2 linked regions of the Homo sapiens genome follow. The protein of the gene in region 2 interacts with the protein of the main gene of each other region in a pairwise test. Each region holds a gene or a part of one and is shown on either strand. Other genes may lie near its edges.

Region 1 (3,653 bases), on a different chromosome or scaffold from region 2:
GTCTCAGTGTTAAGGTAGTGTTATTTTTTTTAAAGTTCTGATGCAAGAACACCCACTGAGAGCAGCCAAAATCTGGGACCTTGGCTATGCATAATGCCAAAGAGAGCCAAACACACCAAGCGATGAGCCACTTACCTCAATGAACATGTCTTCCACAAAACAAGCATCCAGTGCCTTCAACACAGGCATACGTCAAAAATTCCTGGTCCAGGGTGAAAGCCCAGTAGGCATCCACAGGCTGGTTCTCAGTGGATTCATTTGGATTAAGGTTAGTCATTAAAAGGGAGGATAACAAATAAGCTATCTTCTTAGGGTTTCTTCTCTTGTTCTTTGTACTACAAATTACTTGGTGATGTATGTTTTCACGCAAGGAAACAGGCCTAGATAAGAAACCAGGGTTATGAAAATCAGAACTTCTCCTCTACTCTCCCTGACACCAAAGGTTTTCCAACGTCTGGTCAACAGACATCCCTAGCAGATTTTTAAGAAATCTGAATGAAGTCTGGGTATACCGAAGTCACGCACGGCTTTTGTCCCCATTACATTTTCAAACTTCCTTCATATATAGCAGTAAGACCAAGTCATGTATTTGGAATGAACCATCTGGTCTATTACATACAGTCTACCACTATAAAAATGGACATAAAAATGAGTCTTGAACTTGTATTCTGTCTATGGGGATACCACCCAGAATGCACCGGATCGCATCTGAACCTGCATTCTGCGACTATCAAAATAAAGGCAGGCCCAAAGGAAACTGAGAAACTGGCCTAGAACTGAGTGCCTGCTATCTCGTCTTCGTGTGTATTTTGATTATGTATCTCCCTATTGGAAGAACAGAAAAGTTCAACACCACAAAAGCTGGGAAGCAGTACAGGGGCAAACTCAATGGTCACTTGTGAGCCTAACATAATTACTGAATCTTTCATGATTTTTTACATGTAGTTTTAAATAAAAATGTCGGTTTTTTTTTTTCAGCCCAATATCCATGTGCCTAGGTAAAATTCTCACACCCTAAGAAGAAAACTAATGGAAGTTTTCCTTTCTTACATGTGGTTAACTTCAACTTTACGCAACCAACCTTAATTTTACAGATTCACGCTTAACTTTTAAATAAGCATCTTGCCTCTCGAAAGCCACCTTAATATATACTGAAGCAGGTGAATTTGTAAAAAGAGAAGACTTTAGGTTAGCAATTGAATCACAGTGGCAAGAATTCTAGAATTCTGATATGGCCCCGTACGAGGAGTTAGGGAAGGAAGAATGAGTATTCGTATTCCTTCCTTCATCCAAGCACGTCAAAGCATATCAGAGAAAACCATCAGACCCTCACATCCAGTCGAAATGCTACCAACTAAAATATGAGCATTTTGAATCACAAAATTATGTAAACATTCAAATAAAAAAATCAATGTGAAAAATCAAAATGATCTGTTAAACCTCCAATTTTTACTTTCAGAGATTGCTGATGCCTATGTCAATGTATCTCAAATAGTTTCCTTTTTACACATTTAACTCAACTTTGATACTATACCTACCAGACCTGGACCAGTTTAATTGCATAGGAAGATTTTTACTATGTTTACATTTTTCTTAAATTAATTTTTAAAAAAGCATAGTAAAGAGTCTGAGGACAAATTATTCAACTGTTTATCATACATAAGACCGCATGACTATAATACAAAGGGGGGTTCTTTTTTCATTTAACGTTACAATATACACAGCAAGTCCGGACTAGATCTTACAATCTGAACACAGGTATTTAACCTTTTCCATGCTGTTTATGTTTACAATGCACAGAAGTCCTGTAACCAAACTGTGTAGTAAAGCACACAAAACTGGACTGTAACATAACACAGTATGCAGAAGCATTGGATTTTATGATTTTCTTTACGTAAATATCGGTTTAAAAACTGCTTTAGTTTTTTGGTGCTTGCTAAGATGTGGCAACCAGCACAGAAAAAAAAAATGACCTGACCCATATGATATCTTAACCTTATATTCCTAAACAGCAGTAACTACTGAATTCCTTTTGATATTGCTATACTCAAGATGATATCCTTTTATTCACTGTAAACCTTTATGAACTACCAAGTTCAAAAAAATCATCCACAGGCTTGACAGTTAATTACAAAATAAATATGGATTTCCTGATAAACAACAAAAAGTTTTTGTAGTTTATAAAAACGAGTATTTCCAAGTTTCCATTCACATTTACATAGTGTTTAGCCTTTCTTTTCTCACTGTTTACATATAAAAACCTGCTTTTGTTCAGAAAAAAAATTGACCTAGTCAGCCACATGGAATTGACCAATAGAATGAAACGCGGTGTTCTGCTGAGTCATCTTAAACAGGTTATCGGCAGAGGTAGATTACTGCTTCTTTTCTAGGCTTCTTTTGATCCTGGACAGGTAAATTACTTATCTTCATTCTCCCAATTCAACCGCTCAAAAGTGTCACACCCCAAAATTGGTCAATTTAAAATGGGAACACAAATTTAGCAACTGCCAGACTGTGTTACATTAAGGCAGCGTAATCTCAACACGAGGCACCTGTTAAATACCAGCCTGTCTGCTCAGGTCACGCATGAGAGTTCTGCTTTGCTTGCACTCATACTCTGGACCTGTTGGTGCAATCAAGGTCTTGCTTTCAAGTTTACAAGTAGGTTAATCAGGAATACAAGAATCAACTGCTGGTTCCATAGCTTCTGGATCCAGTGTCCCTTTACCTTCAGAAGCCTGAACACACTTAGAATGTAACAGATGTTGTAATCTTGAATTAGATGTCAATCTACTATGTTCAGTACACAGATTGCTGTAAATGTATTGGCTATGGATTCAACAACAGTTCCAGTTTTGTTTAAGCAATAGTACAGCCATAATTTTCAACTGACATTTAAAAATGGTCTAGTTACACCTTGTGTCAAAGTGCAGAACTGCTACATTATTGGTTACAGACATCTATGTGCTATAAAAACAGCTTTGGTACAATAAATTATCAAAAAAGAAAATAAATTTTTGTAAAATTCACAGCATAATTGTGAGGCAAAAAAGCAGTCACATAAAATTCTGCATTTTTTAAAAATGTTCAGGATGAACAGAAGACATCTTTGTGCAGAAGAAATGGTGGAGATACCACGTGCCGAGAAAAAGCAAAAGAAAAAGTAAAAAGCAGGAAGGGACACAGCTGTAGCTATTTCCATCAAAGCAAACCACTACTTCTGTGACCTTCAACCAATAAGGAAGTCAACTTTATGACACACGCAAAGTGACCTTGCAATACCTTACAATTAGTGGGTCACAAAAGTCTATTTTAAAAGAAAGGCCTCTTGAATTACCCATTCTCTGTGTTTTCAGCATTAAGGACTGTCTGCAAAAGCATGTCCAAAAGTGATTGCATCTGAAATGGTAGGCTCTTCTAATTTCGAGTCCAAATCCATAAGGCCAAAGGTTATCCCAAAGACCACCACTCAGACCTCCCCAGGACTGGCCACGACCGACCCGTTGATTGCTTCTCAGTGCACCTTGGTTAGGAGACCAGTCACGTTCCATCCTATCTTCCTGTGGCCTCTGCAACGGGAGAGCCACAGGATCCCATGTAATTGCTGCTTTGCTCCTCAGTAGGTTCAGATAGGAGAGTTCTGATCCCCGCCA
Region 2 (3,653 bases):
CTCCTGACCTTGTGATCCACCCGGCTTGGTCTCCCAAAGTGCTGGGACTACAGGCGTGAGCCACCGCGCCCAGCCTTGTTTTTTTAATTTGAAATGGAGTCTTGCTCTGTCGCCCAGGCTGGAGTGCAGTGGCGCTATCTCAGCTCACTGCAACCTCCACCTCCAAGGTTCAAGTGATTCTCCTGCCATGTACTGCTCTACATTTGTTTTGTTATAATTCTTTTTTGTTTAGTTCCCCCAGAATCTGTCATTACAAAGATTTTTGAAATTATATGAACAATGACAAACATTGACAGAAAAAGATCAGATTGTTTTATACTAACAATGATAATGTCTTGCTCAATTAAAAAATTAACCCCATTGATCTTCATTTAATTTTTATCATCTTATTTTATTTTTAGAACCAAAGTTGTTTAAAAACATTTTTTTTAGGCTGGACACGGTGGCTTACGTCTATAGTCCCAGCACTTAGGGAGGCCGAGGCGGGTGGATCACCTGAGGTCAGGAGTTTGAAACCATCCTGGCCAACATGGTGAAACCCTCTCCCTATTAAAAATATAAAAAATTAGCCAGGCGTGGTGGCGGGCGCCTGTAATCCCAGCTACTGGGGAGGCTGAGATCAGGCCATTGCACTCCAGCCGGGGCAACAAGAGCAAAACTCCGTCTCAAAAAATAAAAATAAAAAAAAATTTAAATTTAGCATCAACTAAAACCTATTTGCCATTTCTGAATAGGGCTTTAAACTTTGCTCCTCTTCTATTCTGGAAACACAGGAATAGCAAATAGACAATGACCACAAATAGTTTTGTCCCAGAAACAAAGAATATTAGCATGAATCCAAACTGGATAGCTAAATTTGTTTTGTTTCCTATCCAGCCAAATAATTCTATATGCTTGATACTAGAGTAAGTAAAAGATGTATCTGAGACCCATAGAGTAGCTGCAAGGTGAAAAAAATTAATATACAGTAGAGAAATAGGACAACATCTTGACCAGATGACAAAAATTAACATCACCAATGAGATGCAGATGGATAACACATGCCATCATCAGATGTGATATCCTCAGGAGACAAAATCACTTATACAGTTTTCCATCAGGGAATGACTAACCTGCATCTAATCAAAAGTTAATAGGAGACAAATCCAAAATTGGGAACCATCTATTAAAAGAGGGGATGAGGGTGGGCACAGTGGCTCACGCCTGTAATCCCAGCACTTTGGGAGGCTGAGGCAGGCGGATCACAAGGTCAGGAGTTTGAGACCAGCCTGGCTAATATGGTGAATCCACATCTCTACGAAAAATACAAAAATTAGCTGGGCGTGGTGGCACATGCCTGTAGTCCCAGCTACTCAGGAGGCTGAGGCAGGAGAATCGCTTGAACCCGGGAGGCGGAGGTTGCAACGAGTCCAGATTGCACCACTGCACTCCACCTGGGCAACAGAGTGAGACTCTGTCCCAAAAAAAAAAAAGGCTGAGGCAAGAGGACCACTTAAGGTCAGGACTTTGAGACAAGCTTGAGCAACATAGTAAGACCCTGTCTCTATAAAAAGATTTAAAAATATCAGTCAGGCATGGTGGCACATGATTGTAGTCTCAGCTACTTGGGAGGCTGAAGCAGGAGGATCATTTGAGCTGAGGAGTTTGAGGCTGCAGTGAGCTAAAAAGGTGCCACTGCACTCGAGGCCTGGGCAATACAGCAAGACTCGGCCTCTAAAAAAATTTTTTTTAATTAAAGAAAGGGACAAAGTGATTGTGGATTATATTCTTCAAAAATGGTAATGTCATAAAAGAAAAAGAAAGGCTGTGGAAATGTTCCTAATTACAGAAGAATAAATAGACATGATAAGCAAATGCAATACCTGATCCTTAATTAGAAATTGTACTTCCAGGAAAAAAAATGCCATAAAGAACATTATTGAATCAACTAACAAAACTAGAACAGAGTTAGCAGGTTAAATAAAATTATTTTATCAGTGTTAATTTTGCTGAAGTTGGTAGCTGTACTGTAGTTATTTAAAGAAATACACAGTGAAGTATTTTGGGGTAAAAGGCTACAAATGTATGCTACTTAGACTGAAATGGTTGAGGATAAAAAGAGAAAGATCTGGCTGGGAGTGCTGGCTCACGCCTGTAATCCCAGCATTTAGGGAGGCTGAGGCGGGTGGATCACCTGAGGTCGGGAGTTCGAGACCAGCCTGACCAAACATGGAGTAACTCCGTCTCTACTAAAAATACAAAATTAGCCAGGCGTGGTGGCACATGCCTGTAATCCCAGCTACTCGGGAGGCTGAGGCAGGAGAATCGCTTGAACCCAGGAGGCAGAGGTTGTGGTGAGCTGAGATTGCACCACTGCACTCTAGCCTGGGCAACAAGAGCAAAACTCCATCTCAAAAAAAAAAAAAAAAGAGAGAGAGAGAAAGATCTATATATTGAAGAAAGAAAAATCAAATGAGAAAGCAAATGGGATAAAATGTCAATAACAGGTGACTCTGAGTCAAGGGTATATGGGTATTGTCCTTTTCTTATTTTTGTAACTTCTCTGTAAGCCTAAAATTATTTCCAAATTTTAAAAAATTAATTTTAAAAAGTATAGCTAAAGATTCAACACAGAGGTTTCTAGCAGAATTTGAGAAAGGCAGAGAAAGAATATGAAAATTGGGAAAGGATTATCTATGTTATAACTTAGAATTAAATGAAGTCACACAGTGGCTCACGTCTATAATCCCATAGCACTTTGGGAGGTTGAGGTGGGTAGATCATTTGAGGTCAGGAGTTCGAGAACAGCCTGACCAACATGATGAAACCCCATCTCTACTAAAAAAAAAAAATACAAAAAATTAGCCGGGCTTGGTGGTGTGTGTCTGTAATCCCAGATACTCAGGAGGCTGAGGCATGAGAATCACTTGAACCCAGGAGGCAGAGATTGCAGTAAGCCAAGACTGTGCCACTGCACTCCAGCCTGGCTGGCACAGTGAGACTGCGTCTCAAAAATAAATAAATAAATAAATAAATAAAATAAAAATTAAATGAAGTCAAATGATCTCAAAACAAGAGAAAACTGATTCCAAAATTTAGAGCTTATATAACATTTAAAAACATCAAAGAGGTTTACCTTAATTTAGCTGAACGTAGTATTCTGGTAAGTGAAACACAGTTGCCTTCCATGATACCCTTTCCAACCGTGGGAATAATGCTTTTGCGGCATGCAACATATAATGAACATGCCAACCAGTGTGTAACTTCTCCCTGGCAAGCAAAAGACAAACAGCAAAACAGGTATAATATTATGTTAAAATGCTTTAATTCTAGAAACAAGAGATGTAGAATTATCTGGTCTCAATTTTCCTTATGTAGATAAAGGGCCAGAGAAGTGAAGATATTTGCCCAAGGTCACAAAGCTGTTAGTTGCAGTAATGGGTATAAAACTCCTTACTCTTAGTTCTGTGTTTTTACAACTATAACATGCTAAATTAATATTAATCTAAAGATAAAAGCCTGGCTTGGTGGCTCATGTTTGTAATCCCAGTAACTCGGGAGGCTGAGGTGCGAGTATCACTTGATGCCAGGAGTTTAAGACTAGCCAGGGCAACGTAGACTCTAAAAATGAAAATAAAAAAATTAGCCAGGCATGGTGGTGCTTGCCTGCAGTC

What was found. The genes of interacting proteins can lie anywhere in the genome.
Region 1: the proteins of RBL1 (region 2) and DYRK1A interact in binary tests that used the Homo sapiens proteins (3 or more experiments, as listed by UniProt).

Annotation. Positions count from the first base shown.
Region 1 is NC_000021.9:37,513,154-37,516,806, reverse strand, and holds part of DYRK1A (dual specificity tyrosine-phosphorylation-regulated kinase 1A), read right to left. Parts: 3' UTR 1-3,653. UniProt on the Homo sapiens protein: Dual-specificity kinase which possesses both serine/threonine and tyrosine kinase activities. Exhibits a substrate preference for proline at position P+1 and arginine at position P-3.
Region 2 is NC_000020.11:37,085,874-37,089,526, forward strand, and holds part of RBL1 (retinoblastoma-like protein 1), read right to left. Parts: intron 3,250-3,653; coding exon 3,116-3,249; intron 1-3,115. UniProt on the Homo sapiens protein: Key regulator of entry into cell division. Directly involved in heterochromatin formation by maintaining overall chromatin structure and, in particular, that of constitutive heterochromatin by stabilizing histone methylation.